Homo sapiens: one gene and its partners. The protein of the gene in region 1 purifies or fractionates together with the protein of each later gene. This does not show direct contact. Each region holds a gene or a part of one and is shown in the gene's direction. Other genes may lie near its edges.

Region 1 (8,452 bases):
AACAATGTTTCCAGACTTTGCCAAATGTCCCCTAGAGGGCAAAATTTCCCCTGGCAGAGTCACTGATCCACACTAATCTCTAATAACAATTCACCAGTAAAATCCTTCACTTGGGAGAAGAATCGCATGTGTGGGAAGAGTAGAAACTTATATCTTCAATATCTGTCAAAATGGCTTTCATTTATTCCATAATTTGATGTACCAGGAGAAGGCATGTTTAGAGATGATGCCATTTGGCTGCCTGTACCTCACAGCAGGAATGACATGGGCTTTCCAAGGATCTATACAACAAAAACCAGAATGACACACACTGAGTTACACTACAAAGTGGGACATGGGGGATCCTGTAGACATTGAAAGAAGAAAATGCATGACCCCAAGGCACCAGATAGTCCACTCTGATGCTCTCACCATCCTAGAAAACATCTCAGCCATGAATGCAGTCACATATGTCATTAGGAAGGAATGTCTTATTAAGGGGAAAATTGTAGCAAAGGAATTTCTGTTTATGTTCAAATTTGTAGACTTTTGTATTATTCTTTAAATAAGAATCTACTCTCCCCCAAAATGAATGCAATCAGTGTCTGGACAGTGTTGGGGTCTTACTCCTGGCCCCTGGGAGCTGGGAGCTGACAGTGCCCTGCTGCCCCAGCCCTGGGCCTTCTCTGAACCTCAAGAACACTGGATGGCCCCCATTTAGGGAGTAGAGAGGAGAGGTCTTTTAAACATCCTCACCAGTCACCTCTCCACCTTTCAGACCCTGGGCAGAATCTGTTGCCCACTCTTGGATTTGATCTTTAAGTTACTGACTTTAAAGCATTTTGACACTTTTTTTTTTTTTTGGTAGTCAGAAGCTTTCCACCTCCTTGGGAAAAGTGATTCTCTACTCTATGTACAGGAATAACCAGTAGAAATAGAGAAAAAATGCATTAATATTCAGAAAGAAGATGATCTCTATGTGAACAAATGAAAGCTTAAAATCATCAGAGTCAACATAAAATCAACATTGCCAGTGCTAAAACTACAAAAGTGACATTAACGGTGAACTAGAAGAATAAAACAAGCATTACAGTTGCTGGTAAACCTAAATCACTTATTTTTTTAAAAGACCATTCTGGTATATTGCAATGATGACAGGAGTGCCCTTCAGTCAATATGATGCCTGTAATTTTTGTGACCTGGCAAGATATACTGTCCCTTCTCCTTTTAAATCTCAAATGCAAAATGAGAGGCAACTCCTGGGTCACCCCCTCCCAGAGCAAACTGCCTGCAAGCAGCCCCTGGAAGAGCAGAGGCCCTAGTTTCCCTGATCCTCAAGGCAGGAGCGATGGGAAGCTCCCTGTAAGCCGGGGGAGAGCTTTGTTCCCAGAATGTTCCTCCTCTTCCCAGAGGCACCAACCCCGATGCCCTGACACTTACCTTCTGCTCTCTCGCCCAATGTTCACTCAAATATTGAGTGCTTGGTGAGTCTGCAGAGCTCAGGAACTTCTGGGAGCCAAATCACCACCAGCTCCTCCAGAAAAGATACCTGTGCACACCCAAAACCACCCCACTGAGCCCTGCCTGGGGTCTGTACCACATCCAGCATGTGCACTGTGAGCATAGAATCCGGCCCTGAATTCATGACCACCCACCAACATGCCCCCAACTGAAACCAGCAAATTCCCACACATGGCAAGCACTGAGGCTTGGAGGTGCTTTCTCACGAGGTGGTTCTGCTTCCACCATGGGGTGGTTGTCACTGACACTGGAAGTTGCTCAGCACCTGATAGTGGTGCAGGACTCAGGGACCCTCAACATCAATCTGGTGAAGGCAGATGGGGCCCCTCCAGATCTTCTCCCACCTGCAGGTGCCCAGCTCAGTAAGACCCCAACCCTGGGAGGAGGATCCAGACCCCTGTGCCAGGTAGACCAAGCTTGAGGCCTCAGGCAATGAGAGAGAAGGAGATGGAGGTCTGACCAGGAGCTGCTCTTCCTTGAGAGCCCGGGTCCCTTCCTTGTGCAAAGGCTTGGCTTATGAACAGAATCCTCAATCTGTAGTGACAGTGCCTAAGAGGATGACATGGACTCCGGCCTGATGTGCAGCCGTCCCTGTCTAACCCCTCCCTGCTGCAGGACAGCACCAGCCCAGGAGAGGAATCCTCAGTTGGGGAGCCAGTAAGAACATGGAATACTCGGGGCCTCTTACCTTCCTCCAGTCCACAGCAGCAGCCACCGTTTGTGCCTAGGACACCCACCTGCTGGCCCTTCTGACCCTTACAGTCAGGCCTTCCAGATGCCACTCCTGACTCAAGGCCCAGCTACTTTCACCCTGCTGAGCCCTGCTCCTCCCAACCAGGGTCACTGCCTTGCTAAGCACCTCCTCCAGCTCCAGCTGACTGGTCACCCAACACCCAAACCCCAGAGGACAAACAAGAAAATAAACAGATATGAAGTCTGAAGGAGATGCAGGCTATGAAGACAAATAAAAGAGTAAGCATGAATATAACTCCACCAACAAAATTGTTTCCCAAAACAAAATCTTCTGTGCCCATGATCATGGAACTAATTGTCCCTCACTATGTAGGCAAGCACTTCCAGGGTCTCTCAATTATTTCATGGGTGTCAATATACACTGTAACATAGCAACTCAGAAAAGAAAGTGGGAATAATTTATCTACTTAGATTAAGGTCCTAAAAAGGTCTCCAGACTGCCAAAAAAGGAGAGCTGAACCACTCCTGCTTTGAGAACCATTGAACTACATCTTTTTTAAAAGTCACCCCAGAATGGCCAAAACAATCTGGAAAAAAAAATTGGAGGACTCACTTCCTAATTTGAAAACTTACTAAAACACTACAATCATTAAAACAGTGTGCTTCTGGCACAAGAATGCACATAGAGATCAATGGAATAGAATCAAGAGTCCAGAAATAAACCCTCACCATTACAGCCCATTGGTTTTTGACATGGGTGCCAAGATTCCTCAATGGGGAAAGAATGGTAGCCTCTTCATATTGTGCTGGAACAACTGGATAACCACATGCGAGATAGTGTAGTTAGACCCCTACCTCACAGCCCATACAAAAGTTAACTCAAAATGTTTCAAAAACCTAAATGGAATAGCAAAACTTATCAAACCATTAGAAGAACATATAGGAGTAAAACTTAATGATCTTGGATTGGGCAATGGTTTCTTCAATATGACATCAAGAGCATAAGTAACAAAATTAAAAATAGATAAGTGAACTTCATCAAAGTTAAAAATGTTTGTGCTTCAAAGAACACCATGAAGAAAGTGAGAAGACACAGAATATGAGAAAAATTTTGCAAATCATGTACCCCATAAGGGACTTGTATCTAAAATATATAAAGAACTATTACAACTGAATAATAAAAAGATAACCCATTTTTTTTAAACAGCAAATGATTTGAATAAATAGTTCTCTAAAAAATATTAAAATTGTCAGCAAATACATGAAAAAATGCTCAACTTCATCAGCCACCAGGGAAATGAAAATCAAAACTGCAATGAGCTATCACTTCACACCTACTAGAATGGCTATAAGTTTTAAAAAATATTAAATAGTAAGTGTTTACAAGAATGTAGAGAAAATGGAACCCTCGTATATTGCTGATGGGAATATAAAATAGCACAGCAAACTGGAAAACAGTTTGGCTGTTTCTCAAAAACTTAAACATAGAACTACCACATGACCCCATATTTATACTCCTATATGTACCCCCAAAGAAATGAACACAGAAACCCAAACAGATACTTCCAAGTGTAAGTTCATTGCAGCGGTTTTCACAATAGCAAAAATGTGGAAACCACCCACATGTCCATTAAGAGATGAATGAATTAAAATTGAGGTATAAACATATATTGGGATATTACTCAGCCATAAATAGGAAAGAAGCTGTAATATATGCTACGACGTGGATGAATCTTAAAAGTGTTACCCTAAGAGAAATAATCCAGAAAAAAATAATACACGTATATAATTCCTTATTATATGAGACATGTAAACTAGGCAAATTCACAGAGATTGATAGTATCAGAGGCTACCAGTGGGTGGGGCAGGGGGAAGTGGGGAGTTATTGATTAAAAGTATGAAGTTTCCATTTGGTATAATGAAGATTTTCTGGTAAAAAATTATGGTGATGGTTGTACAACATTGTGAATAGAATTAGTATCATTTAATTCTACACTTAAAATTGCTAATTCAGTACATTTATCTTATGTATTATACCATATCTAAAGAGATCTTTGGGAAACAAACACTCGCCCTGATCAGATAGTCCTCATACTCATGTACACACCCTTCCTGACCTTCTGTAAAAAGGGATACAAAGATTTAGGGACATGAGACAGTTCAGGCAACTGCAGATCCACAAAATATATGTATTTGCAAAGAGAATGAGAGTTAAGCTGGGGGCACAGACCCCAGACACGGAGAGGGTCCCCCTGAAACCTTCACCAAGGACAGCAGAACCCAGAGCCTCCCACCTCCTTCCATCAAAGTCCTCTCTTCCCAGGACACACAGGACACCTCCCTCCACACCTAGGAGCTGGGGATCCTCCCGAGACCTCCAGGCCTGGGTCTCTGTCCCTGGGTCAGAGGCCAGGCTGGTGACACTGAAGATAGCGGGTGGGTCCTTCCCAGCCATCACCCAGTGAGCCCCTTTCTAGCCCCCAGAGCCACCTCTGTCACTTTCCTGCTGGGCATCATTCTGCCTTCCTGGAGCACTGGAGAGCATGAGGAGACCCAGGGCCCAGCTGGTTTTGTGTGTCACAAAGGGAAATAATCTACCGGCTGTGACAGAACCAAGGCCAGAACACAGCAGAGGTCAGTACTGGGGAGAGTGGGTCGTCCTGTTATGAGGACCCCATCAGCGTTGCTTCTCAAAGTTTTGCCTAGGGAACCAAATATAGGCAAAAAGGAAGGAGAAAGGAGGGACAAGGGAGGCAGGACTGAGAGGGGAGGGGACAGAGAGACATTGTAGGCAGAGCCCCGCCCTTGCCCATAAACGGGAAGTGCTCCTGCCTGAGAGGAAGCTCAGCATAGAGGAAGGAAGGACAGCAGAGACAACAGTCACAGTAACCCTGTCTAGAGCGTTCCTGGAGCCCAAGCTCCTCTCCACAGAGGAGGACAGAGCAGGCAGCAGAGACCATGGGGCCCCCCTCAGCTTGTCCCCACAGAGAATGCATCCCCTGGCAGGGGCTCTTGCTCACAGGTGAGGGGAGGACTCCCTGGGAGTGGGTGGGAGGAGGGAGCACAGAGACTGGCTGGGGTCTCCTGGGGAGGATGGGGCTCTGAGAGGAGACAGAGGGCTTTTGTTAGAGACTCAGGGGAGAGAGCGTCTAAGGAGAACCAAAAAATCTAAGTGAACTGGAATTGCCAAGGGGCAAAACAATCTCAGTTGGTCCATGTTTTCAAGTTCATTGTCAGTGGCCACTACACTTTGAAAATGATAGTAAAACTATATCACAGTGACAATTTAAATAAAAACACCACCAGGGCATGAAACTCTGTCTTCATCTGCCAACCTCAGACATTAGCAAATAAACCCCAGGATATGGAAGGCCCTGGGAACGCTCATGAACTCATCCACAGGAGTCTGCAGCCTGTCCCAGGCACTGGGGTGCAACTAACATCACTCAAGTCCATGCCCTCACAGAGCTCACAATCTCATGGGGGGGAAGACAGACACCCAAAGAGATCTAGAATGTGAGGTCAGGTGCTGACAAGAGCCCTGGAGGGAACAGAGCTGGGAAAGGTCAGAAAGGGAAGACCCAGGGTCTCTAGAGGAGGCTTCACGAAAGAAGTCTCCCAGGGATTCCCTTGTGTGAGTAGGAACTGAAGGCAGTGGGGAGGGAACCATGCAGACCCCTGGGAAAGAGGGTTCACACAAGGAAATGCCAAGGTCAGAGGTACTGAAGGAATGAGGGTCATGCTGCTGACTTTGACCCAGTAGGACACACACACACACACACACCCTCTAAGGCTGAGGGGTGAAGAGACCTGCACCCAGGACCCCGTCTTTCCATGCCAATGCATAGGTCAAATATTGACTGATATTCTCTCCCTTTCCTAGCCTCACTTTTAACTTTCTGGAACGCACCCACCACTGCCTGGCTCTTTATTGCATCAGCGCCCTTTGAAGTTGCTGAAGGGGAGAATGTTCATCTCTCTGTGGTTTATCTGCCCGAGAATCTTTACAGCTATGGCTGGTACAAAGGGAAAACGGTGGAGCCCAACCAGCTAATCGCAGCATATGTAATAGACACTCACGTTAGGACTCCAGGGCCTGCATACAGCGGTCGAGAGACAATATCACCCAGTGGAGATCTGCATTTCCAGAACGTCACCCTAGAGGACACGGGATACTACAACCTACAAGTCACATACAGAAATTCTCAGATTGAACAGGCATCTCACCATCTCCGTGTATACGGTGAGTGATTCCTCCGTGCCTCTGGGTGTTGGGGGTCAGTTCTGCTTCACATACGCAGGATTGTCAGGCCTGGGCTGTGCCTGCATCCCCCTCTGCATTACGTCCCATGTTGGGGTTTGGGCATTTAGTGCAGGACACACCCAGGGGAGACAAACTATAACAGATCAGAATTCCTTTCCCTTATCCGGACTCCGTGGAAATTCCCTACAGCAAGAAGGATAGTCTGATGCGGGAGATGCAGCGGGGGAAAATCAGTCTCAGTCCAACCCCCCTTGGCCTCCTCCTCATAGACATGACCTGAGAAAGATCTTATAGGACTCAGTCAGGGCCTGGCCTGAGGATCCTCTGAGAGAAGCTCAGCCCTTGAAGCCCCTGCCCCAGGCCCCTGTCCCAAGATCCTGACTCCAGATGACCCTGGGGAGCCTGTGCCAGGGCTGGGTTGTGGCTTCCTGGGCAGGGCTGATTGTGAGCAAGGATTTACCAGCTGTCCCAGGGCCGTGGTTCCTAGAGCTGGTCACCAGGCAGGGCTCAGCCCCCAGAGCCCCATCTGGGCAAGGGCAGAGCCTCATCTTTCACCTGAGAGTCAGAGTGGAGAGGACAGACAAACAAACTTCCCAGGCCATTAAACTGGATGGGAAACTTAAAAGATGTCCCGGGAAGTGCACTGTCCTCAGGAGGAGGGAAAGCAGAGAAAAGACACTCTGGACCGCTCCTTCTCCACCAGGAATCAGGCCCAGAGAACTCTTTTTTTTTTTTTTTGGAGTAAAATAATAATAGATGATGTTTATTTGGAGCTATTCTGTGCCAAGCTTTAGGTCAGGTAATTGTAAATATTTTAATGTTAATTTACAGAGAGGATGGCAAGCCAGGGACCATTGACATGTACCCCATTTTATTAAAGAGAAATTGCATCAGCATCACACAGGCTGTCAGTGCTCAACGTCACACCACCGTGTGTCTGCAGCCCAGAATCTGGTCGTGGCCACCACCGTGGGGCATCTGTGGACCCCAGGACCAGATGTTGGTTCAGCTCCTTTCTTCTTGGGCATCCTCAGCTCAGAGAGGGAGATTCTGGTCTGAGGAATGACGGGCAAATGGAGAATTAGTCAGTTTTTACTTAGAACGAAATCACCTGTCTCAACTATCAGACTCAATGCCAGGATTGTCCAAGCCTCTCCCATCAGATCCACATTCCTTCCCTCACTGGACGTGAAATCATGAATTTCTTGATTTGTTGATGTCACTCCCATGGGAGGATGAAGGAAAGGACTCAGCTTTCTCTTCCCACTACACCCTGTACCTGCACAAGGCCCAACTGAGACACACACTCAGTAGTTCTCTGATGAAGGAGGGAGGGAATTAATGAAAAAAGAAAGGAATAATCATAACCTCTTTACAGACTGGGTCCTGGATGTAGGATCCTAGGAGGAGCTGGCCACACCTCTTCCTTGTCCCTTAGGGGCTGAGACCCATGTTCCATTTCTCTGACTGCCTGCTCCTAAAGCCACCCCAGGTATTGCATCTCATGTGACTCTGGGGCCGCTCATCTGTGGGAGGGTTTTCAGGGCTCCCTGGTCCTGGTCTGAGGCAGCTGGGTCCTCCTGGTCCCTGGGGTCTCTGAGGTCACTGTAGTCCCTACTGCTCGCTGCTATGGGTGTCTCTGGTTCTCTCTGCTCCTCCCTGTCCTTCATCTTTCTCCTTTATTCACAGGAGAATGTTCTAAATTTGACTCTGAGATCTCTGAGGATGCAGCATGGCCCCAAGACACTTTCTGTTGGTCACTCTATCCACAGAGTCAGTGGCTCAGCCCTCCATCCAAGCCAGCAGCACCACAGTCACAGAGAAGGGCTCCGTGGTCCTGACCTGCCACACAAATAACACTGGAACCTCTTTCCAGTGGATTTTCAACAACCAGCGTCTGCAGGTCACGAAGAGGATGAAGCTGTCCTGGTTTAACCATGTGCTCACCATAGACCCCATCAGGCAGGAGGACGCTGGGGAGTATCAGTGTGAGGT
Region 2 (7,145 bases), on another chromosome or scaffold:
TATTTGAGCTGTGATACCTTCCTTCTGATTGTAAAGATATTTTCTTATAGCTTCTTCAAGGATTGTCTATTTGAATTTCCAAAGATGACATTCAATTACTCTGCTACATCTTTTCCCCTCTCTTGGCCACATGACTTAACCACTCTGAGCCTCACTTTCATCATCTTTTAAATTAGAGGATCCAGCTAGATAACCTCTAACATCCCTGGTGGCTCAGATATCCAAACACACTCTTCGCCCTGTTTACACCTTGGAGGGAGCCACAATTACTCATATGAAGGTGCTTCCCAGCCTGTACCTGAAATACCAGCACCAGATCTTAGTGTGATCGTGAGACCACTTCCAGATGAGACCCCTTCCTCGCCAGAAAACACCCAGACACCCTGGGAGGAACAGCAAAAGCTGCTACACTGGAATTGACCTATCGTGGCTGGTCACATGTCTACTCTACTCTCGATTTCTCTACTCTGGCAATGGATTTGAATTTGAACTTCAGAGGTAAGGAACACAGAATAGGAAAGAACTGAAATGGCTCAACAGCAAAGCCACGTTTCCATGGCTTAAGAACCAATGAGAGAATCCGTTCCATGCTCTCTAACTTCCCATTTTTGGCTTGTGATACTGCTATTCAGTTTCAAATATTTTTCTTTTGAAACATCTTTATGTTCTGGCCTCAAATGATACAAACCCACACCTGGCCAGGCACAGTGGCTCACATGTAATCCCAACACTTTGGGAGGCCAACATGGGTGGATTACTTGAGTCCAGGAGTTCAAGACCAGCCTGGGCAACATGGTGAAACCTCACATCTACAAAATATACGCTCACACAAAAATCAGCTGGGTGTGGTGGTGTGCACCTGTAGTTTCAGCTACTCAGGAGGCTGAGATGGGAGGATTGCTTGAGCCCAGGAGGTTGAGGCTGCAGTAAGCCATGATTGCATCACTGCACTCCAGCCTGGGTGATAGAGTGAGACCCTGTCTCCATTAAAAAACTAAAACAGGCTGGGCGCGGTGGCTCAAGCCTGTAATCCCAGCACTTTGGGAGGCTGAGGCGGGTGGACCACGAGGTCAGGAGATCGAAACCATCCTGGCTAACATGGTGAAACCCCGTCTCTACTAAAAATACAAAAAATTATTCAGGCGTGGTGGCAGGCACCTGTAGTCCCAGCTGCTCGGGAAGCTGAGGCAGGAGAATGGCGTGAACCCGGGAGGCGGAGCTTGCAGTGAGCCAAGATTGTGCCACTGCACTCCAGCCTGGGCAAGAGAGAGACTCCATCTAAAAAAAAAAAAAAAAACAGAACCAAAAAAAACACACCTCTGCATTACAGAGGACAAAAAAATGTAGCAGAGTAATCAAATATCATCTTTGGAAATTCAAACAGACAATCCTTGAAGAAGATGTAACAAAATGTCTTCACAATCAGAGGAAGCCATCACAGCTCAACTATGTGTAGAAAACAGACCTGCTCCATGTTATGTGCAACCTGACCCACCAAACAAGCAGGTCAGGGTCAAATATAGCTATTTTTCTGGTGAATTCATCCAGCTTTGACTTTGGACTTTTACAAACATGCTCTTTCACAATGACAGGGCTGGAGCTGAATGCTATAAATGTGAGGCAGCTATTGTTATACTGTCAGCTAAACCACAATGACTTACACTCAGTGATGAATCTCAAGTTTGTTGATATTTCCCAGAGTTCCCAATGAGTACTAAATGTTATCTCTTTGTTCAAACATTATGAAATATTGTGATTTTTTTTCTTGTAGATTTCCTACTGATTTTCACATACGTGAAAGTGAATATTCTTGTGGCATTTATGGTAGTGATTTCCATCCTAGAAATCAGTGGATATATTCAATTCACCACGTCACAGCTGCCCAGGCATGATGGGAGGGGTTGGCAGTGGGGTGGGGAGTGCAAGGGGAAAGGGTCTCAGGTTCAAGACTCAGTAGCCTGAATACACAGCCTACGCGGTCGTGCTTCTGAACATTGAGAGAGAGAGCAAATGTTGTTTTGTTTTGTTTTGTTTTCAAGAATTTGGGATCAGGCTGAGCACAGTGGCTCACGCCTATAATCCCAACACTTTGGGAGGCTGAGGCAGGTGGATTACTCGAGGTCAGGAGTTTGAGACCAGCCTGACCAATATGGTGAAACCCCATCTTTACTTTAAAAAAAATAATACAAAGTTAGTTGTGGTGGTGCACGCCCGTAATTCCAGCTACTTGGGAGGTTCAGGCAGGGGAATCGCGTGAACCTGGGAGGTGGAGGTTGCAGTAAGCCAAGATCATGCCATTGCGCTTGAGTCTGAGCCACAGAGTGACGCTCCCTCTCAAAAAAAAAAAAAAAAAAGGACTTTGGGATCTGAAGACAGAGTATCAGCATGGAAAAAAGTCCAGCCTGCTTTTGGTTTGGTTTATTCTGAGATAATTCTGAATATCAGATTAAAATAATCAGAAAGGAAATGATCAATGGAAGGAGGTATGATTTTGAAAGTCACTGCTGTTTTTGGGAGAACATGCCATTGGGTTTTTTATTATTTATTTATTTTTTTCTTTTGAGACCAAGTCTTGCCCTGTTGCCCAGGTGGAATGCAGTGGCGTGATCTCAGCTCACTCTAACCTCCGCCTCCCCAGTTCAAGCAATTCTCATGCCTCAGCCTCCCAAGTAGCTGGGATTACAGGCGCATGCCACCACACCTGGCTAATTTTTGTATTTTTAGTAGAGACGGGGTTGCACTATGTTGGCCAGGCTGGTCTCAAACTCCTGACCTCAGGTCATCCACCCGCCTCAGTCTCCCAAAGTGCTGGGATTACAAGTGTGAGCCACCGCGCCCAGCTGCCATTGGGTCTTAATTCTCCAGAAACAGTATCTCAGTCAAGAATGCAAAGCTGTGGCAGGATTTTTCCATGAGGGGTCCACTGAGGCACTCACTGGCCAAGGTGGGCGCTCAACTAGTCCAACCTAGGCAAGGGAGGGGAGAATCTGTTTTCTCCCTTCCATTATTTCAGAAGTTATGTTTCTCCAGCAGACACACGGCTGTGCAATTTCGAAGACTGAGGGGAAACTAGGGAGGAAAATGCAGAAAACTCTCTGTTGCATGCCCTGTGAATTGGGCTTTAAATGTAGCAAGGAGCTCCAGGATCCCAGAAGTTGGCCTGGGGTGCTTGGTCCTGAGGATAAGACAACCTCCCTTGTATTGTAATTCTGCCCACAGCTGGAGCTTCCTATTTCAGTGTTGCATCCAAGAAGTTACATTTCCTGTTTGTTGCAAGAAAAATAGAATCTGACCAGGATGGAGGCTAGGCATGGGGGCTCACATCTGGAATCCCAGCAGTTTCGGAGGCTGAGGCAAGCAGATAGCTTGAGCCCAGGTGTTCAAGACCAGGATGAGCAACATGATGAAATCCCATCTCTACAAAAAATAGCCAGGCAGTGTAGTGCACACCTGTAGTCCAGCTACTCTGGAGGCTGAGGTGGGCAGATTGCTTGAGCCGGGGGAAGTTGAGGCTGCAATGAGCTTTGATCTCACCACTGCACTCCAATTCTGAGACTGGGGAGTATTGATTTGCCACTGACCTGAGCCCGGCTGATAGGGGCAGCAGGACAGACACTGTTACCTTAATCAAAGACATTCACGAAGCATTCTCACTGAAGATCTGCCCTAGTATCCTGCACAGCCACTTGCCTGGGTCTTTATAGGTAACAGGTAGACAGTCATCAAAGAGATAGGGGAAAACATGCACAATGAATTCTTTGCTCAGAAAAACCCTTCTGTGTCTTCTCCCACTTTTTCTAAATTTTTCCTGCTTTCATTTAGATCAAAGGATTTTGTTTCTTGGAATAGTTCTGCACTTGGTCCTTTAGAAAGGATGACAATTATCTGTAGGTCTCTCTGATTTTAAGATCAATAGAAATCAGCAAAAGCCAAAAAATAAAAAATAAAAATAAAATAAAAGCACACAAGCACATTCAAGCACATCCATCTGCCCCTGACTTGTCCTCACAGTAAGCAACTGCTTCTGACTTTGCTGTTTGAATAACCTCTGGGTGTTCGATCCACCCACACAGCTCAAGTTTGAGCTCCAGAACAAATATTTGTCCCAATTTTGAACAAAGTTAGAGAGTTTTTTCTTCTTTTTTCTTCTTTCTTAAAGCGAACTGTACTCCTCTGCTGTTCCTTTGAACTTGGTTCAGTAGGAAGAAGTGATATCCTCCCCAGACCATCTGCTTTGGGGAGCTTGGCAAAACTGTCCAGCAAAATGAAAAGACTCACGTGCTTTTTCATCTGCTTCTTTCTTTCTGAAGTATCAGGCTTCGAAATCCCCATAAATGGACTTTCTGAAGTAAGTACTTACAGATCACTCCTTGCTGTTGGCTTGTTCATGAGCTCAGTAAATCATCTATTGGAATCGCTATTCAATGGCCTTATTCTGTGTGTAATGGAAACTTAAGATAAAATTCATCTGAGTGCAAGTGTTTACTGTTATAATTACTGGAATGTATATTTACCTTTTAAAGCATTAACAGGTTTTGCATGAAAATTAAGTCAAGATCAATGGGCAGGCATCAGAGCGTAGCATTTATGGAGCAGAGCTGCTCACTCCTCACCTAAAAAATTGGGGGTAAGAATAGACCTAACCCAATGGTTTGCTTTGAGAATTAAATGACACAGTGTAAACTCTTCTAGCAGAGCGCCTGGACTAGTAAGTGCTTAATAATTACTAGCTGTTATGATGATGAAGAAATATTATCACTCTTTTACTAAGAGTATAAGAAAAGTCATTATCAAAGCACACTGTTTTTCATATCTAAGTGAACAGTGATATTTGTAATAAGAGCACTTTAAGTATTCCTATTAAAGCGGAAGATAGCAGGCAGGGTGGAAAAGTACAAGAATAATTCCCATGGAGTACAGGTCTCCACTTTTGTCCCTTAGCCATCTCCAATGTAAGGAAAGTCTTGGACTGAAAGTCTGTTTCTGAAAGTCATACAAGAGCTATTTTTATGCCAGAAAAGCGAAGCATGTTATGGGAACATCCCAGCAAATGCAAAGGCTTATAATACTTGCAGAGTGGATTACCTATAAAAATGCCAGAGAATATGACGGCATATTTACAAAGGGAAAATATCACTCTGTCTGCTTTGAAACTATCATATTTTCCAACACTTAAAAGCCACCAGAGTGTGTTAGAAATCTCAAATTGAAGCCAAGACATCCAAATGTGTTTGTGCTTTTTCAGTCATTTCTAACTGGCATTTCCTTTTAGAAAATACCTACATTTTTAACTTGGGGAGATGTATGGTTCATGTCTGTCCAGTCAGACACTGCAAATGCCTCCAGGGTCTACCCAGATACTTCCCCAGACACCCACCTAATCACTGGGTTGTTTTGATCTCTGTCTTACCACCTGCTGGCAAACTCAAAAATGAATTCCCATGTCCAACAAATGCGAAGGTGTTGTTACCCTCCATTTGGACACCTCTGAGACGTAACCAGCAAATAGAAATATACTAAAGAAATCATTTTATACAAAATTGTGATTGCCCAGAGGTAGAGGAAAGAATATAAAATAATGAATACCAACAGCTATCTCTTTGGCTCTAGATCTTTTGGAAATCATCATTCTCAGCAAAGTAACACAAGAAGGGAAAACCCAACACCGCATGTTCTCACTCATAAGTGGGAGTCGAACAACGAGAACACATGGACACAGGAAGGGGAACATCACACACTGGGGCCTGTCAGGGGGTGGGGGGCTAGGGGAGGGATAGCATTAGGAGAAATACCTGACGTAAATGATGAGTTAATGGGTGTAGCAAACCAACATGGCACATGTATACCTATGTAACAAATCTGCACGTTGTGCACATGTACCCCAGAACTTACAGTATAATTAAAAAAAAAAAAGTTAAAATCCTAATTTTTTTTAAGTTTGTAGACTATGAAGATCTTGTGGAACTGGCCCCAGGCAAATTTCAATTGGTGGCAGAGAACCGGAGATATCAGGTATAGTAAGGTTTACTCCCAAAAGGGGGAAAAAAAGTGAAAGAGATTATGGCAGAAGAAGACAAGTGTTAAGATGCCTTCTGCTAGATTTTCTTAAGAGTTTGTTTTTTAGCACAGAAGAGTCCAGACTTCTTACACCTTGGTGGAAGAGATCACCCAGGTGAAATAAAAAGAGAAACTCACACAACTGCTCAGCAGCCTTCACACCATAATGCTCAATTTAGTCCCTTAAAGAGTACACGACTCAGCACAGTGGCTCCCACTTATAATCACAGCATTTTCAGAGGCCAAGGAGGGAGGATCACTTGAGGCCAGGAGTTCCAGATCAGCCTGGGTAACATAGTGAGGCTCTACCTCTGCCACCCAGCTAATATATATATTAGCTGGCATGCACCTGTAATCCCAGCTATTTGAGAAGCTGAGATGGAGGATCACTTGAACCCAAGAGTTCGAGGCTGCAGTGAGCTATGATTGCACCAGCCTGGGCAACAGAGGGAGACGCTGTCCCCACTCCATTTAAAAAAAAAAAAAAAAAAAAGAATACATGGCTATGTGTTTTCTTCAAAACTTAAGATTCCGAAATTATTTCCTGCCTTGCCGGAAGGATTTCCTGTTAGGAAGACTTTTCTTATTTTAGCGATGACAGACACTCCCCCTTGCAGCCTCACAATCTCCTTCCTCTGGTCACTCTGAGGGCACCTGAGAAGGAGAATTGGCCACATTGGAAGTTGCAATCCTGGCGGCCACCAGCAGCAGTATAGACAAAACCCTCTAATTAAGGGGGTGAGTTTTCCAGAACACCAGGAAGGGCTTGGCTTCTTCCCCACGGAGCCCACATGCTGAGAGAGGAGGTATTTACGGAAGCAGCAACCCTAAGCTGATCAATGTCTTATTTTGTATGGGTGTGAATTTTTTACTTTCTGAAAATCCAGGATTTTTTTTTGTAGACTAATAATATTAAAATCCAATAAGCAAGACTTCATGTCACAATTTATTTAGCCACAAGAGAGAAAAATTTGTCATTGAGCATTGCATTCAAGAAGTCTACAAGAAGAGGTCAACCATTGACCTCACCATGTCACACAGCACAGAACCTCAGTTCACCCCGAATCAGGCAAGCTGAGCTTATATCC
Region 3 (8,052 bases), on another chromosome or scaffold:
GTTATAAGAACTCCAAATATCGGCAGCTAGTATGGGAAGCCAGGAGGCCTGAGCTGCGCAGGCAGTGACTCAGGGCGGCAGTGGCGGCAGGAGGAGCAGGAGGCGGCACTGCGAGCAAATGGTGCTAAAAAAGAACAGATCAGTTTAACTGATCAATTTATTTGAAGTGATATTAATAAAAATACTTCCCATTATTGTAGGGAGACATTAATGTGTAATAATTAAGAGTCCAGCCTCTAGACACAGATTACCTGAGTTTTAATATGAGCTCTGACACTGACTAGCCGTGTGACTATGGTCAAGGCACTTCATGTCTCAGTTTTCTCATTTGTAATTTGGGACTAATGCTTAAAATAATACTTGGTGCACAGAAGGAACTATATAAGCATTAACTATTATTATTATAAATAGCTTTTATTTATGTTAAAAACACTTTTATCCAGTGTTTGCTACTTGCCAATCACTGTATTAAGTGCTTTGTGTGTATCATCTCAATTAATCCTCCTAGCAAACCACTGAAGTAGGTCCTATTAACAACTCTATATGAGGTATTATTACTCTTTACAAATGATGAAGTCATTTACAACTTTACAAATGATGAAATCAAGACTCCAAGAGTTTAAGTTATTTGACCAAGATCAAATAAGGTACAGTCAGAATGTGATACAAGTTTATGGACTCTAGTTACTCTATTATGTTATTCTTGGAGAACCATTTTTGTTTTTGTTTTTGAGATGGCGTCTTGCTCTGTCGCCCAGGCTGGAGTGCAGTGATGGGATCTCGGCTCACTGCAAGCTCCGCCTCCTGGGTTCATGCCATTCTCCTGCCTCAGCCTCCCGAGTAGCTGGGACTGTAGGCACCCACCATCACGCCTGGCTGATTGTTTGTATTTTTAGTACAGACGGGGTTTCACCATGTCAGCCAGGATGGTCTTGATCTCCTGACCTCATGATCTGCCCGCCTCGGCCTCTCAAAGTGCTGGGATTACAGGTGTGAGCCACCGCGCCCGGCCTTGGAGAACCAATTTTAACATGTATTGAGTATTATAAAAGCACCCACTTCAGGCCTGGAATGTATTAAATGTCACTTAGTATCTAACAACCTTCCCACCTCATCCCTGAGGACTTGAGTACTTGGCTCATGGTATTTCATTTATCAGCCTCTCAGTTCCTTCAATATGTCCCCTGACGGCATAAATCATCCACATCGTCCACCAGCACCGGTAAACATACTAGATCTAATCATTACTTGGAACTGTTCTACTTCTGAAATGGTAAACTCTGGTTATTACCAAAGACTTCTTGGTTCTTTCTTACTCAATCCTGTAACAACAGCTCTTTAATGTCATACATATCTCCTTTTCTTTAATTTGTAATTTTTCCAGTCTATTATTCTTCTCAAACCTCTTACACCTTTTCCACTGCCTGGATTCTATGATTGCTGTTTTAAAAATTTTCTTACCAATACCGTGTGTTATTTTCCTTCTTGTACAACTTCCAGAAAAACTTCAAAATTGGGTTGGTGTTATGCTTTTCCCCTTCTACCTGACTGATTAAATTTTGATGGAGAAAACCACATAATCATGCAAGCTCCATCACCATACATTAATGGTCTCCAACCTCAGCCAGGCCCTCAGCATCACTTATCAATTCTCTGAGTGATTTTCTACTTTCATTTTTCAACTCTCATTTTTCCTAATGACTATTCCAAACCTTCACCACCTTCTTCAAGCATCCTTTTCAAGTCCCATACCTTGAGTTCAGTAAACAGCCTTTGCTCCAAATTCATCAAGATAATTGGGGGCTTTAGTTATTGGAGTTTTAGAGATCCATCCTTGGCTACAACTTTCTGGTTCCATATTATTCCTGAGAGATCGCTTCCACTTTAATGGTATAAACACTACTTTATGCTGATGACGTTTAAATCCGTATTTCCACTTGGAGTTCTCTACATAGTGGACATCTGTGGTTGGAGGCCCCATAGTGTCTTAGTCTGTTTCTGCTGCTATAACAAAATGCCTTAGATTGGGTACTCTTTAAGCAACAGAAATTTATTTCTCATAGTTATGGAGGTTGGGAAATCCAAGATCAAGGTGCCTGCAGATTCAGGGTCTGGTAAGTGCCTACTCCTTACAGATGATGACCTCTCTGTGTCCTCCCACGGCAGAAGGGACAGAAGGGGCTAGCTAGCTCCTTGAAGCCCTTTTATAAGGTCATGAATCTTGCTCATGAGGGTGGTCCTCATGACTTAGTCAGCTTCTAAAGTCTCCACCTCTTAATACTATCACCTCTTAATACTATCACCTCTTAATACTATCACCTCTTAATACTATCACCTCTTAATACTATCACCTCTTAATACTATCACCTCTTAATACTATCACCTCTTAATACTATCACCTCTTAATACTATCACCTCTTAATACTATCACCTCTTAATACTATCACCTCTTAATACTATCACCTCTTAATACTATCACCTCTTAATACTATACTCAATACTATACTGACCTTGTGTTCACACAGCTCCCTGTTCATTGCACTGAAGATGTCTCCTTGTACTTACCCACGTGTGTGTCTGTATCACAGTTAGACTGTGAGCTCTTTGAAGCTTGGGACTGCACATTGTTTCTTAATGTTGAACAAATGGATGAATGATTCATTAATGAAAAACTGTTTTACACCTGAAATGATTTCTCTGCTTTACAAAAAAAGGGGGAGAGGAAGTAATTAATATCAACAAACATTGTGATTTTTTTCTTAGTCTGACTATGAGTAACAGTAGGCATAGTGAATTCAAATGGCACTGTGAGATCTGGAGGTGCACAAAGTGCATTATGTCCCAGGAGAAGAACCTGGAATTCTCTGTAGCCACAATAAATTTGCAAGACTTCTATTAACATCCACACAAAACTCTCATTTCAGTTAAATCCTCTATAGAAAGACTTACTTGCCGAATGAAAAATCGTTTACCATAGCTTGTTAATAACATATAGATTCTTGGTCTCCAAAAGTGAACAATAGAACAGTGGAGGACAAACTAGAGTTAAGAGTTTTTTTCTGGCTGGGTGTGGTGGCTCACGCCTGTAATCCCAGCACTTTGGGAGGCCAAGGCGGGAGAATCATCTGAGGTCAGGAGTTCAAGACCAACCTGGCCAACATGGCAAAACCCCGTTTCTACTGAAAATACAAAAATTAGCCGGGTGTGGTGGCACGTGCTGTAATCCCAGCTACTTGGGAGGCTGAGGCAGGAGAATCGCTTGCACTCGGGAGGCGGAGGTTGCAGTGAGCCAAGATCGCACCATTGCACTCCAGCCTGGGCAACAAGAGCACCCCAGCCTGGGCGACAGAGTGAGACTCCGTCTTAAGAAAAAAAATTGTGTTTTTTTTTTCCGTCCTGTACTGACTTTCTTTCCAGGGGCTTTACAAAAACCCTGAATCTAGCTAATGCAGAAAGCTAACCTGCTTGAACAATACCACACTTTCAAAGCATTTCTTTTTAAAATTCACGTAAGAAGGTAAGGGAGGACTGGCATATTTCTCCTGAAGTTCAGTACTGAGTATTTATAAACTTAACTATTATTAGGGATCCTTTTGTAGTTAAGCTAATAGTAAGTAATGATGATGGGGAAAAAAAAGAGCTAACTGCTAATAATAACAATTTATAAAGAAGTTACAGTCCTTGAATGCCCACTGAGTGGCAGGTGCTTTTCACAAAGTATCGTATTTACGCTTCACAGCAACATTTTGAATAGAAATTTATTTTTCCTTTTTCTGTTTGAACAACTGAAGTTCATTGAGTTCAGATAACTTGGGGCAGGTCCAACGGACGAGTTGGAAAGACTCTGGGGCCAAAGGCTCACACCACGCCTCTCCTAGCCCCTGAGTTTTGCTACCTGCTTGCGTTTATGTGCAGGCAGGGCGGGTGGGTGGTGGTGGGGGAATCAGATGAAGCTGCCTAAGGAATTAAACATGGAAAGTGGTGGAAAGGCGAAGGAGGTATAAGCGGTGGGCCGCTGGAACCCTAAGAGAGACCAGGCAAGAACCGGGAGAAGGGATGCACCCGTTGGCGGCTCAGAGAACTTAGGTAGAGGCGAGGGGCGGGGCGGGGCGAGGGGCGGGGCCTGAACGAGGCTAGGGCGGGGCCCGAACGAGGCTAGGGCGGGGCCCGAACGAGGCTAGGGCGGGGCCTCGGGGGACAGAGTCGACCATTTGGAGACCTGCCAGAAGAGCCGTCTCTCCAAGGGAATGAAAGGTGAGGGGAGCGTGAGTGCAGGCATGATGGGAATCTCCGTGACTTGGTAAGGCAACTCACCCTTACCTGTCCTACACCCAAGAAAAGCCTCTTCTATGCTCCCCTGGGGTATCTCTCTTGCAGAGTAGGCAGGTCAATGACGAGGAGAGGGTCCTGCCCAGAGCGTGCCCCCCTCCGTCACTTGGTACGGCCCGTGCCCCCGCCGCTGATCTGGCAGGCTGCGCGCGCACACTCCGGCCGGGTGCGGGCCGGCGGGGCACAGCGGCCTCTACGGCCCGCCTCCGTCAGTCATTCCCCGGTCCCTCCTCCCGCTGCTCGCGTGCTCCGGGCCGGCCCAGCACCCTCCGAGTTACGTGCCCGCGCTCCCCGGCGGGGAGGAGCGCAGCCGCGGGGGCGCGCCCCGGTGACTCCGCCCCTCAGCTCCCCTCCCCTGAGCCCGGGAGCCCGGCTCGCGCGGCTAGGTGCGAGGAGACCCGGGACCCCACGCCCGCCCGCCCTGCCCAGCGCCCCAGCCCCGGCGTGCGAGGCGCCGCTCCCTCCTCTGCCCTGCGCGGTGCATGGAGGGGCCCGTTCGGATCGCAGCCGCCGCCACCGTAGCCGCCGCCGCGCGCGCGCGGGGGGATGACCTGGGGGTGGCTTTCCGAGCCGGCTGCAGCGCAGGAGGTCTGGAGGCTTAGCCAGCCCCGCGGAGAGGTGCGGGGGTGGGGGTCCCGCCGCAGGGTCGGAGGGAGGGGTGGCGCGCGGGCACTGGGCTTGGGGGGCCTTGGCTTAGGGGACGGGAGGTCCCGGGGACGGGCGGGCCGGCGTTCCCTGGAGGGCGTGGGGGTGCAGGGCTGCGTGCGGGGTCTGGATGCTGATGCTTGCCCGGCGGGGAGCCCCGGCGTTCCGCGTCCTCGGGGGCTCGGAGGCACCTCGCGGGAGGAGGCGGGGTGAGGTGTCAGTGACACGACGAAACCTCTTCTTGACGATGGTCCTCGGGGGCAGGTGAGATGCCGCAGAGCGGGGAGCTAGGGCGCCCGCGCGTTTTCCCAAGGGAGCCGGGTCCCTGGCCTCTCTCAATCTCCATCCCTGCAGAGCGCCCGCGAGAGACAGTGATTTATGTGTAGGGAGAAGCAAGAGAAATTTCCTGCACAATGTATCTTTCTCTGCCTTCACAAGACTCACTGACTTCCCAGCCCCAGGGAGTGTATTTTTCCTTCTCCTCTGTAAAGCTTTCTGTGGATTGCATTATCATTTGCTAAATACATTACAGCTCGCTATTTATTTCAGTCGGCAGCTTCCAGACCTTTGTTGCTTTCTCTCCACATCTAGGAATTTCAGCAATAAATCACTGAGGGGGATAGATAGACTCTCTTGCCCTTCCCTTCATTGTTCTCCCTAACCCCACCAAATCAGGTGGAAGGCTCTCCAAAAGGAGCTGTTTCCAGAATGCCTGCCCTTCCTCATCAGGACGACAGAGGGTGGCAGGTGCTTTAAGGGCAGACTGCTTTCCAGTGGGAATCCAGAATTTAGAGAACCTCATCAACAGAAAGTCAGCCTTTGTGTCCCAAACCAGACACCTTGAAAAACAGGAGGTTGGACTAAAAGCTCACATGAGATTTATTTTCAGGCCTATGCCAGTAAAGATGAAAGACGCCAAGTCAGTGAATTCTGATTCCTTTCGGCGCTGATAACATAACCCTCAAATTCCCAACTGACACTTGGCATACCTAGTGGACAGTGTCTCCAAGGAGAGGAAGGTGGGGAGGGTGTTAGAAAATGAAATGAGTTTATTGTCAGCATAATTCTAAACATTCTATGACATTTTGTAGTTCTCCCCCACCCTCAGTCTATTTTTAGCTGAAAATTTGGGGATAGTTCAACTTTTAAGATAAGATGAAAGAAAACCTTCAAAAAATTTTCTGGAAATTTTAAATTAGTGCTTAACTAGAAAGCATTCTTTGGAACCCGAGAAGCACCAAATACTGCAGTCTCTGTTATGCACATGTTGGAATGAACTGCCTCATACTTGAAGTTATATGAGAAGGATGGAGAAAACCTGTTTCATTTTGTAAAGACGTGCCCTGGGTGTGTGTTTGGCAGTGTGTAGAACAGAAACATTTATATTTCTATTAAGAAACACACAAATGTATACTGTTTAACTTTCATGCAAAAACTTCCCAGTGTTTGGGAAATCTGTCTTTGTTTGAATAGTTTAGTCAGCCAGGAGAATCAGTTACTAGAGGTACTGTGCTGTTGTTTGTGTAATAACTCACTTGGGATGCTTTGATTGATTGCCATGGTTCTCATCAGCCTCCTCTTCTGTGCAAAGTACTTAAACAGCTCTGACTCTCAAGCCTTCAAGTACAAAGAACCCTTAGGACTTGGATACTGATCTAGCTTGTGTAGCTTGGCTTCTAAATCTAGCTTACGCCTTGCTTTCTTTGCAGGTGGTTTGACTTTGCAGGAAAAGAATTAAGTTCACTTTAAGATAGGACTTTCTCCTCCAGATCGTCAGGGTATATACAGCTGAAGGCAGTAGGTAGGAATAGGAACTAATGTCCTAGGGCTTTGTTCTAAAGAGAGCAGGTAAAAATTTGTTGACTATTTCTTGGGCTTGCTTCTTATTTTCCCACTTCGCCCATCTGCCTTCATGACTTTGTAGACAATTTCATGTATGGTTTTGTCGAAATGTAAGTTGAAGTAAAATTTTCCTTCTGTAGAATTTTTTTTTTTCCACGAACGTTTAGACTAAAAATTGGTGATTGTTTCGAAGTTAAATACTAGGGAAATGATTTCAGGAATTAAATATTATCGTAGTAAAAATCAGGGAAGCGTTAGAAAATAAATAATGAGTTGAAAAATGTGTTGCTTTAACGTGTAATGATATGAGCCAGCGCCTTGTGATCAGCTATGGCATGATGTAGAAGTATGGGTAAGACAATACAGTGGAGCTGTAGATGAGCTGCGTACATGGTAGCCCCCCTTTAAGTAAATGAACTTAATACAAACTAATTAGATTAGAAACAGAATTTGGAGTATGGTTGCCAAATATTTTGAGTTGAAGGACTTGCTTTTTTACAGTATTTTTTAATGGGGAATTTTTTCAAGAAATTTCGTGAACTTGAATTTGAGAATGTTTTATTTTTACTTAAATTTTTATATTGTATGTAATCATTCCATGTGATAAGTTTTTGTTGTGTATTTGGCACTAACTCACTTTCAACAGCACAGGGGAGGGCTTTACTTGATTCTTTTTTGTTAAAAAGAAGGGATGGTGTATGGAATATTCTTAATGTCACTTGAAAAATATTGGATTACAATTAAATGAAAAACTGGTTTCTTGGTTTTTTTTTTTTTAATCCTTCAAGTTTTCCCTCATTGCTTGTGCTCTTTCCCCCATTGTCAGGCTTAAAACATACAGTATCATTGTCATCTGTCTCCTGAATAATGGTCCTGAGGTGATATTATTAATGTGGCTTTTTAAAATCAAGCTAATTATACTTGCCTAAAAGAGCCACATGTGTGTGATTCTAGCTGCCTGGTGCCTTTTGAGAGCCCTGGAGACAAGCTAGTGAATAGAGCTGAAAATTCATTCTGTATTTGATTAAATGGAACAGACTCGCTGCTCCTTACCCCAGCGGGGGCTATGAGATCTCTTGATCCCCGAAGCGGCTCCAAGACCCTGGGAATTCCATTAGCGAGCACCTGAGGAATTTCTGCCCTGCAGTGCCTTTTTTGTATGTGTGTATGTGTGTGTGTGCAGAGGGAGTGGAGCAGAGCGGGGATTGGGGGGATGCGGGCAGGGGGGGTTGAGGG
Region 4 (7,632 bases), on another chromosome or scaffold:
TAAAACCGAAAATATTTATTAGGAAAAAGTCTGCCAGTTTAATTGATTTTCTTTCTTTTTTTTTTAAAGAACCAGATTTTAGTTTTCATTGGTTTTTATCTATTTTTCTTTTTCTCCATTTCATTGATCGTCTCTCTGATCTTTATTACTTCGTTTCTTCCACTTAATTGGAGTTTCATTTGCTCTTTTTTTCTTAGTTTCTTAGGGTAGACGCTACAATATATAATCTGCAGTAAATCTCATTCTTTATATTTTTCATTTCAGACATTATAGTTTTCATCTGTAGTAGTTCAACTTGGGTATCTATTAAAATTTTTTCTTTCTTTCTTTCTTTTTTCTGAGATGGAGTCTCACTCTGCCACCCCGGCTGGAGTTCAAAGGCGTGATCTCGACTCACTGCAACCTCTGCCTCTTGGGTTCAAGCAGTTCTCCTGCCTCAGCCTCCTGAGTAGCTGGGATTACAGACGTCTGCCACCATGCCTGGCTAATTTTTGTATTTTTCATAGAGACAGTATTTCACCATGTTGGCCAGGCTGGTCTTGAACTCCTGACCTCAGGTGATCTGCCTGCCTCAGCCTCCCAAAGTGCTGGGATTACAGGCGTGAGCCACCGCACCTGGCCTATTAAAATTTTAACATCTTTTTTATATCTTCCCTGTCTCTAACTTTTGAACATATGAAATACAGTCATAATAACTGTTATTTCTATGGTGATTCTAACATCTGTGTCAGTTTTGAGTTGGTTTTGATAGATTGATTTCACTCTTCTTTATGGGTTGTCTTTTCTTGTTTTTTTGCAAGCCTGGTAACTTTTGTGGATTCCAGACATGAATTTTACCTTGTTTGTTACTAGAAGGTCTTGTATAATTTACAAATATTCTTAAATTTTGTTCTGGGATGTAGTTATGTTATTTTAAAATAATTTGATCCTATTTTGTCTTTTAATAATTGTTAAGTGGGACCTAAGCAATGTTTGGTCTGGGGCACATTTTCCTGCTATTGAGGCCAAATCCTTCTGAGCATTTTACCCAGCATCCCATGAATTACGGTTTTCTAGTCTGGCTGATAGGATCAGGAACTGTTTCTACCTAATCTGTATGAATGCCAGGTACTACTTCCTCTAATCCTTTTAGAGAGTTCTTTCCCCAGCCTGAGTAGTTCCTTATGTGTGTGTGCTGATGAGTACTCTGCTAATTCCAAAATGGTACCTTTGCAGATTTCTGGAATTCTCTGTCCTCTACAGTTCTCTCTTATTCAAACTCTGTCTTGGTCTTTTTAGACTCTTAGCTCCATTTCTTCAACTCAGTGAATGTACTGGCTCCATCTGCATTTCCCCTCCATACACTGTGGTCTGGAAACTCTCTGAATGCAGTAAGCTGGGACAGTCACAGGGCTATCATCATTTGTTTTCCTTCTCTGGTGATCACTGCCCTTTGTTGCCTGATTGCAATTTTATTAGATCATTGTTTAATACATCTAACCTGGATTTTGAGTTGTTTCAGGCAGGATGGTAAATGTCTTGGCTAGAAGTGGAAGTCTTATATATCTGTATCTTTGGCATGGTGAATGTAAGAAAGCATTCTGTTCCCTAAGTATTCAGAAAAGAGACTGTTCGTGCATATTGACTCTTTTCTGGATGGAGTTTGGAAAGAATAGTTCTCCTGTATTTTTTTTTTAGAGTGATTTTTCCAGTAATTTTCTTTTCCAGTTTTTTTTTTCACAGTTGGATTAGATTATTAGGCAATATGGATTACTAATTCCATTATGTTTTATTAGAATTAGATTGGAACTCTTTGTGGAAAGCTACTGAAAAGATCACATGCTATTTTTTTCATGGCTGTTTTGCCTCTGATGTTTATTCCACCAATATTTGAAGAAAGAGATAAAAAGGAGAACCTAGACATAATCTTTCTATTGTCAATTTTTCTATCACTAACATATGTTCTGAAAAAGGACATTCCTGTCCTATAGTATATTGCTGCCAAAATAAATCCCAAGAGATTGAAGTTTTATTCTATTTTCAAATTGTTTCCTAGAAACCAGCCACCTAATTCACAAAGAGATTAAGAGCCAAGTCTTAGAAACATAACTTTAAAAAACTATATACCAGGACATGCCTCATTTGTGAATGTATGCGTGCTCATAAATTGGGTAATTGTGCACCTAACTACTGTATTCATTTTTTATTATTCGCTTTGTGCTTATACAAATGAAGGCTTTTTCATTCATATTCTGTAGCCTTGGACACTCATGATTGGAGGATAGTTACTTTTTATGCTCCTGTTCAATGTTAATGCGTACAATTTTACAGGAAATTATAAAATGTCTCCAATTACTTTGGTATAGCTGTAACAATAGCTACTTTATTAAACGTGTTCTGAAGTAGTGTAGGTAATTGACAGTTAATTTGGCTTTATCAGGTTATATAGAAAATGTTAGAGAAGCTATAAAAAACCTTTCGTATCAGAGTGTTTGCCTCAAAAGGCTATGTTGGCTGGGCGCCGTGGCTCATACCTGTAATTCAGCACTTTGGGAGGTTGAGGTGGGCGGATCACTTGAGGCCAGGAGTTTTAGACCAGCCTGGCCAACCCAATGAAACCCCGTCTCTACTAAAAATGTAAAAAAATTAGCCAGGGATGGTGGTGCATTCCCGTAATCCCATCTGCTCAGGAGGCCGAGGCACGAGAATCATTTGAATCTGGGAGGCAGTGGTTGTGGCAAGCCAAGATCCCATCACTGTACTCCAGCCTGGGTGACAAATCGAGACTGTGTCAAAAAAAAAAAAAAAAGACTGTGTTGACATCTGAATTTAAGTTCTGCCAACTATAATTTAAAACTTAAGTTCCCTTAAACTGGTCATGATGGTAAGAATAGATAGCCCAGACTTTTTGAGATTACAGCTCATCTCTAAAATGACAAAGCTCAGATATAATAGTAGCCTTCATAAAATTTATTGCCAGACACTGCTAAGTACTTTTACAGACATTTCCTCATTTAAATAGACTTTGAAAGAAAAATCAGCTATTTAATCTTTAGGACAATTTTGTAAAAGGATCAATATATGTACGTATTAATTTCCTATTGCTGCTTTGACAAATACCACAAACTTTATGGCTTAAAACAACATAAATTTATTCTCTTAAGAGTTTTGGAGGCCAGAGATCTGAATTGAGTTTCACTGCACTGAAACCAAGATGTCAGGAGGGCTGGATTCCCTAGAGAAGCTCTAGGAGAGCATCTGGGGTATTTTTGTTTGTTCGTTCGTTTGCCTTTTCCAGTTTCTAAAAATGTCTTCCTTGCTCATGGTTGCTTCTTCCATCTTCAAAGCTAACAGCCACATAACCTTTTCCTCTTCTGTAGTAAAATCTTCTTCTACCTTCCTCTTATGAAGACACTTGTTATTACAAAATGGCTCACCTAGATAATCCAATCTCAAAATCCTTAATTATATATTCAGAGTTTCTTTTGCCATAAAGAGTAATATTCACAGATTTCATGATTAGGTTATGGATATCTTTGGGAGACCTTTGTTTAGCCTACCACGAAATTGTATTATGTACATCAAAGTGGAGTACAGTATACTGCCATAAGTCACATAAAAACAAAACAGGAACAAGCACAGTTTGGAATTAAGTTGAACAGAGAGGTTGATAATATAAGTAAGAGATCTTGGATTGCTGTTCTGTGTTCCAGCTTTTATATTATTGACTGATTGTTTTTGTTGCTGATAGAAATGAATAGAACAATGATCTTCAATTTTTTATTTTTATTTTTTCGAGACAGGGTTTCACTCTGCTGCCTACACTAGAATGCAGTGACATGATCATAGTTCATTGTAATCTTGAACTATGGTTCAAGGATGGTTCAAGCCATCCTCCTTCCTTAGCTTCCTGAGTAGCTGGGACTGCAGGCACACACCACCATGTGCCCAGCTAATGTTTTCATTTTTGTAATGATGGGGGATTGCTGTGTTGCCCAGGCTGGCCATGAACTCCTGGGCTCAAGTAATCCTCCTACCTGGGCCTCCCAAAGTGCTGGGATTATAGGCATGAGTGGCTACACCTGGCCCAATTTTTTTCTAATATGTTTTATCTTCTACTCTTGTCTTTCTTTTTTCTATATAAGACCAATGCTTAGTAGTCTAATGTCATGAATTGAAAGACAGATTTACATAGTCTGATATTATAATTAATTTAGAAATACATTATATTTGATGTTTGAGCATGTCCTTAGACACATGTTCAGATATGCTTCGTTATTCCCTTTAAGCCTTTTCTTTACTTTTTCCTTCACTTTTGTTACTCTCAATGCTAATGAATAATTGACCTCTTTGCCACTGATCATGGTACTCTGGGGATGAAAGATTTTTAGGAAACAGCTCTAGAGGTTTGTTAACTCCTAGAAGATCATAGATTTCTGAAGTAGATTAATATTTTCTATTTTTCGTTATTATCATTTCATTGTCCATTTCACTGGTTAATCCTATACCTTTGAAGAGAAAATTCCATTTGGTACTACTTTTGTGCTATATGGTTCAACAACTTATGGAGTTTACAGTATAAATGTTTTAGAAAGTGAGCTTGTATTTTGTTGCACAGTTTGAAAGCTAAATGTTTACATTATCTTCCCTAAACTACAGGATACCAGAAGGCCCTATTGATCAGGGGCCAGCTATAGGAAGAGTACGCGTTTTAGAAGAGCAGCTTGTTAAGGCCAAAGAACAGATTGAAAATTACAAGAAACAGACCAGAAATGGTAGGTGATTATACAGTGTTTTCCCCTCCTCAGTATATGGGCTTTAGCACAGATAATTGAAAGTTTCCTTTTATCAAAATGTTGGAAATGCTACAACTCTCTATTCTTTGACTACAGGTCTGGGGAAGGATCATGAAATCCTGAGGAGGAGGATTGAAAATGGAGCTAAAGAGCTCTGGTTTTTCCTACAGAGTGAATTGAAGAAATTAAAGAACTTAGAAGGAAATGAACTCCAAAGACATGCAGATGAATTTCTTTTGGATTTAGGACATCATGAAAGGTACTATTCTCCTTTCACATTTTATTTGGGCTTTAGAAAAGATTATAATCTAAGAATGAGAAACAGACTTGTTAATCCATCTGTTGAGTGGTAAATATTAATAGCACCTACAATATTTAAGAGGCGAAGAGTACCTGAGGTCCCAAAGGATGGTAATTGCCAAGTGCAGTTCATCAACCAAAATATACCACCAGAAAGTATTAATTAAAATGTATTTCTAGAAATCTTTACATTCTAAATAAATTCTGAAGGTAGTGGTGCCAGCCAACAATACATTAAAATATCTTTCTATAAATGTTCTTTATATATAATCAGTATTTGAAGTGGAGTGTGCAGTTTTGCATTGCGGTACATTGGAACTCATAGTGAGTCCGATGGTTACATTTCTAATTCAAACATTAAAAACTTTAAAATAGCATTTTTTTAAGGATTTCTAATGAAAGGTTAACAGGATTTTTTTTTTCTTTAAGTAAAAAGGAGCATTCTGTTCATTGTTCTTTCATTAGTTGCTGGAAAGAGGTACCTGAGATCTGCCTGGTTAAATTTGTTTCTCCTATGCACACGTTGCTAAATAATATGAAGTTTATCTTCCACAGAAAAGAAAACATTTTGGTGCTGTTGTATTCATGCAGAACAAAATGTATCTGAAAATCATTATAAATACAGTGAAACCTGTCTTTAGGCCTGTTATATTTAAAAGTCTATGTTTCCAGTAGGATTCTGATGGCAATTACTGTCTCATTAGTGAACAATAAAAGAAAAATTGTTGTATTAGCACAACCTACTACTGTGAAGAGGAAAAGAATTACCCCATACAAGTAAGAGATTTCATATTTATTAACATCAGCAGCAATATTATAATGATTTTGAAAAATTGCTTGGTTGTTTTAGGTGAAATTATAAATAAAAATCTGTCTATTGGAATCATTTTAGCATTAATGAATCTACAGAAATATGATAGCATGGATTTCAAGGGGCAGTGAATTATTAGGCCACACATTGGACAGACTTTTTGATATATTTAGCCCAACTTGCAGTCAGGCCATACTTAGACCACTAAACCAAATGCTGACTAATTCTGTCATTAATATTTCTCTACCCTAAAGCTGATTCTAGGCACGAAGCATCTCTTAAATGGAATTTTGTGCTTGTGTTCTTTGCTTATCACAGTTTTTTAGGCCAATTCACATCTGAAGAGGATTTGACTTGGGTAGACTATGCTGTATGTAAAGGAGAATTTTGGCCACTGACTTCTGATGGAATGTTTAATTTTAAGATTTGAGTAATTGGGCTGGGCGTGGTGGCTCATGCCTGTAATCCCAGCACTTTGGGAGGCTGAGATAAGAGATCTCTTGAAGCTAGGAGTTTGAGACCAGCCTGGCCAACATGGTGAAACCCCGTCTCTACCAAAAATACAAAAATCAGCCATGCATGGTGGCACATGCCTGTGATCCCAGCTACTTGGGAGGCTGAGGCCCAAGGATCACTTGAACCTGGGAGGCAGAGGTTGTGGTGAGCAGAGATCATGCCACTGTACTCCAGCCTGGGCAACAGAGCAAGACTCTGTCTCAAAAAAAAGATTTGAGTAATCAAATAACTTGAGAATTTAATTTTCCAGTGTTTTTAAAAATTAATTCATATATATATATATATATATATATATATATATATATATATATATGTATGTATATATTTATTTATTTATTTTTTAGATGTGGAGGTCTTTCTATGTTACCCAGGCCAGTCTTGAACTCCTGGTCTCCAGTGATCCTCCCTCGTCAGCCTCCTGTGTAGCTGGGATTATAGGCCTGGGCTACCATGTCCAGCTGAATTGAAATAATTCTTTAAGGAATTATTTTGTAAATAATAATATAATTTGTTTATATAACTCGCATATGTTTTGTGACCATATGTACAAATGAAAAGTGAATATAAGAAATGGGCCCCTGAGAAACTGATATAAATCAGTTTTCCATTTTGTTGTTGTTGTTGTTGAATTATGATTCCTTACAGTGCCATTTAGTATGTTAAATAATGGTAGTTCATTGAAAACAAAAATGGTAAGTAAAGGTACCCAAGTCAGTTTATTTTCCTGTCTTAAACAGAAATGACAATGAATCTGGGACATAACTTCATAGGGTAGTAATTTAACTCCAGGAAGCCAGATTAGAATGCAGTAATACAAATAATGAGCAAAACACAATCAAACATTAGAGAAATAACCCTTAAACTGACGGACGTACAAATAGAAAGGACTTTTATTATGTAGAATATACCCTTTTACTGACCATTTTCAAGATCCTTAAGTATAAGAATTAAAATCAAAACAAACTTTTAGGTTTGCCTCTGGTAATTTTTATATGATACAAAAGTCCATTTTATTTTTACATTGGCTCAAATGATAGTGTATAGGTTTCTAGGTCTGTAGCTGGGACCATGGTCAGTGAGGCTGCCACCTGGGTATGGGCCTGCCTTCTTAAAAGAGCCCTCCTGAGTCTTGGGCTCTATTAGGGTTTTGCAGCCTTCTACCTGGGTTAGAAGATTATTAGCAGATTATTGAACTTGAGTAGTTCATTGTGGGAGCCCCTGATTTGACAG

Evidence for each region.
Region 2: the proteins of CEACAM21 (region 1) and ITIH2 purify together in Homo sapiens (affinity purification with mass spectrometry; 3 studies listed by BioGRID and IntAct, with this or other methods). This does not show direct contact.
Region 3: the proteins of CEACAM21 (region 1) and CDON purify together in Homo sapiens (affinity purification with mass spectrometry; 3 studies listed by BioGRID and IntAct, with this or other methods). This does not show direct contact.
Region 4: the proteins of CEACAM21 (region 1) and FUT8 purify together in Homo sapiens (affinity purification with mass spectrometry; 3 studies listed by BioGRID and IntAct, with this or other methods). This does not show direct contact.

What each region holds. Positions count from the first base shown.
Region 1 is NC_000019.10:41,571,124-41,579,575, forward strand, and holds the start of CEACAM21 (cell adhesion molecule CEACAM21 isoform 1 precursor), read left to right. Parts: upstream 1-5,042; 5' UTR 5,043-5,151; coding exon 5,152-5,215; intron 5,216-6,076; coding exon 6,077-6,436; intron 6,437-7,835; exon of another isoform or gene 7,836-7,949; intron 7,950-8,146; coding exon of another isoform or gene 8,147-8,229; coding exon 8,230-8,452.
Region 2 is NC_000010.11:7,699,171-7,706,315, forward strand, and holds the start of ITIH2 (inter-alpha-trypsin inhibitor heavy chain H2 precursor), read left to right. Parts: upstream 1-4,145; 5' UTR 4,146-4,264; coding exon 4,265-4,348; intron 4,349-5,937; coding exon 5,938-6,012; intron 6,013-7,145. UniProt on the Homo sapiens protein: May act as a carrier of hyaluronan in serum or as a binding protein between hyaluronan and other matrix protein, including those on cell surfaces in tissues to regulate the localization, synthesis and degradation of hyaluronan which are essential to cells undergoing biological processes.
Region 3 is NC_000011.10:126,059,474-126,067,525, reverse strand, and holds the start of CDON (cell adhesion molecule-related/down-regulated by oncogenes isoform 2 precursor), read left to right. Parts: upstream 1-4,659; 5' UTR 4,660-4,947; intron 4,948-5,084; exon of another isoform or gene 5,085-5,238; intron 5,239-8,052. UniProt on the Homo sapiens protein: Component of a cell-surface receptor complex that mediates cell-cell interactions between muscle precursor cells. Promotes differentiation of myogenic cells.
Region 4 is NC_000014.9:65,611,340-65,618,971, forward strand, and holds part of FUT8 (alpha-(1,6)-fucosyltransferase), read left to right. Parts: intron 1-4,638; coding exon 4,639-4,754; intron 4,755-4,871; coding exon 4,872-5,034; intron 5,035-5,750; coding exon of another isoform or gene 5,751-5,852; intron 5,853-7,632. UniProt on the Homo sapiens protein: Catalyzes the addition of fucose in alpha 1-6 linkage to the first GlcNAc residue, next to the peptide chains in N-glycans.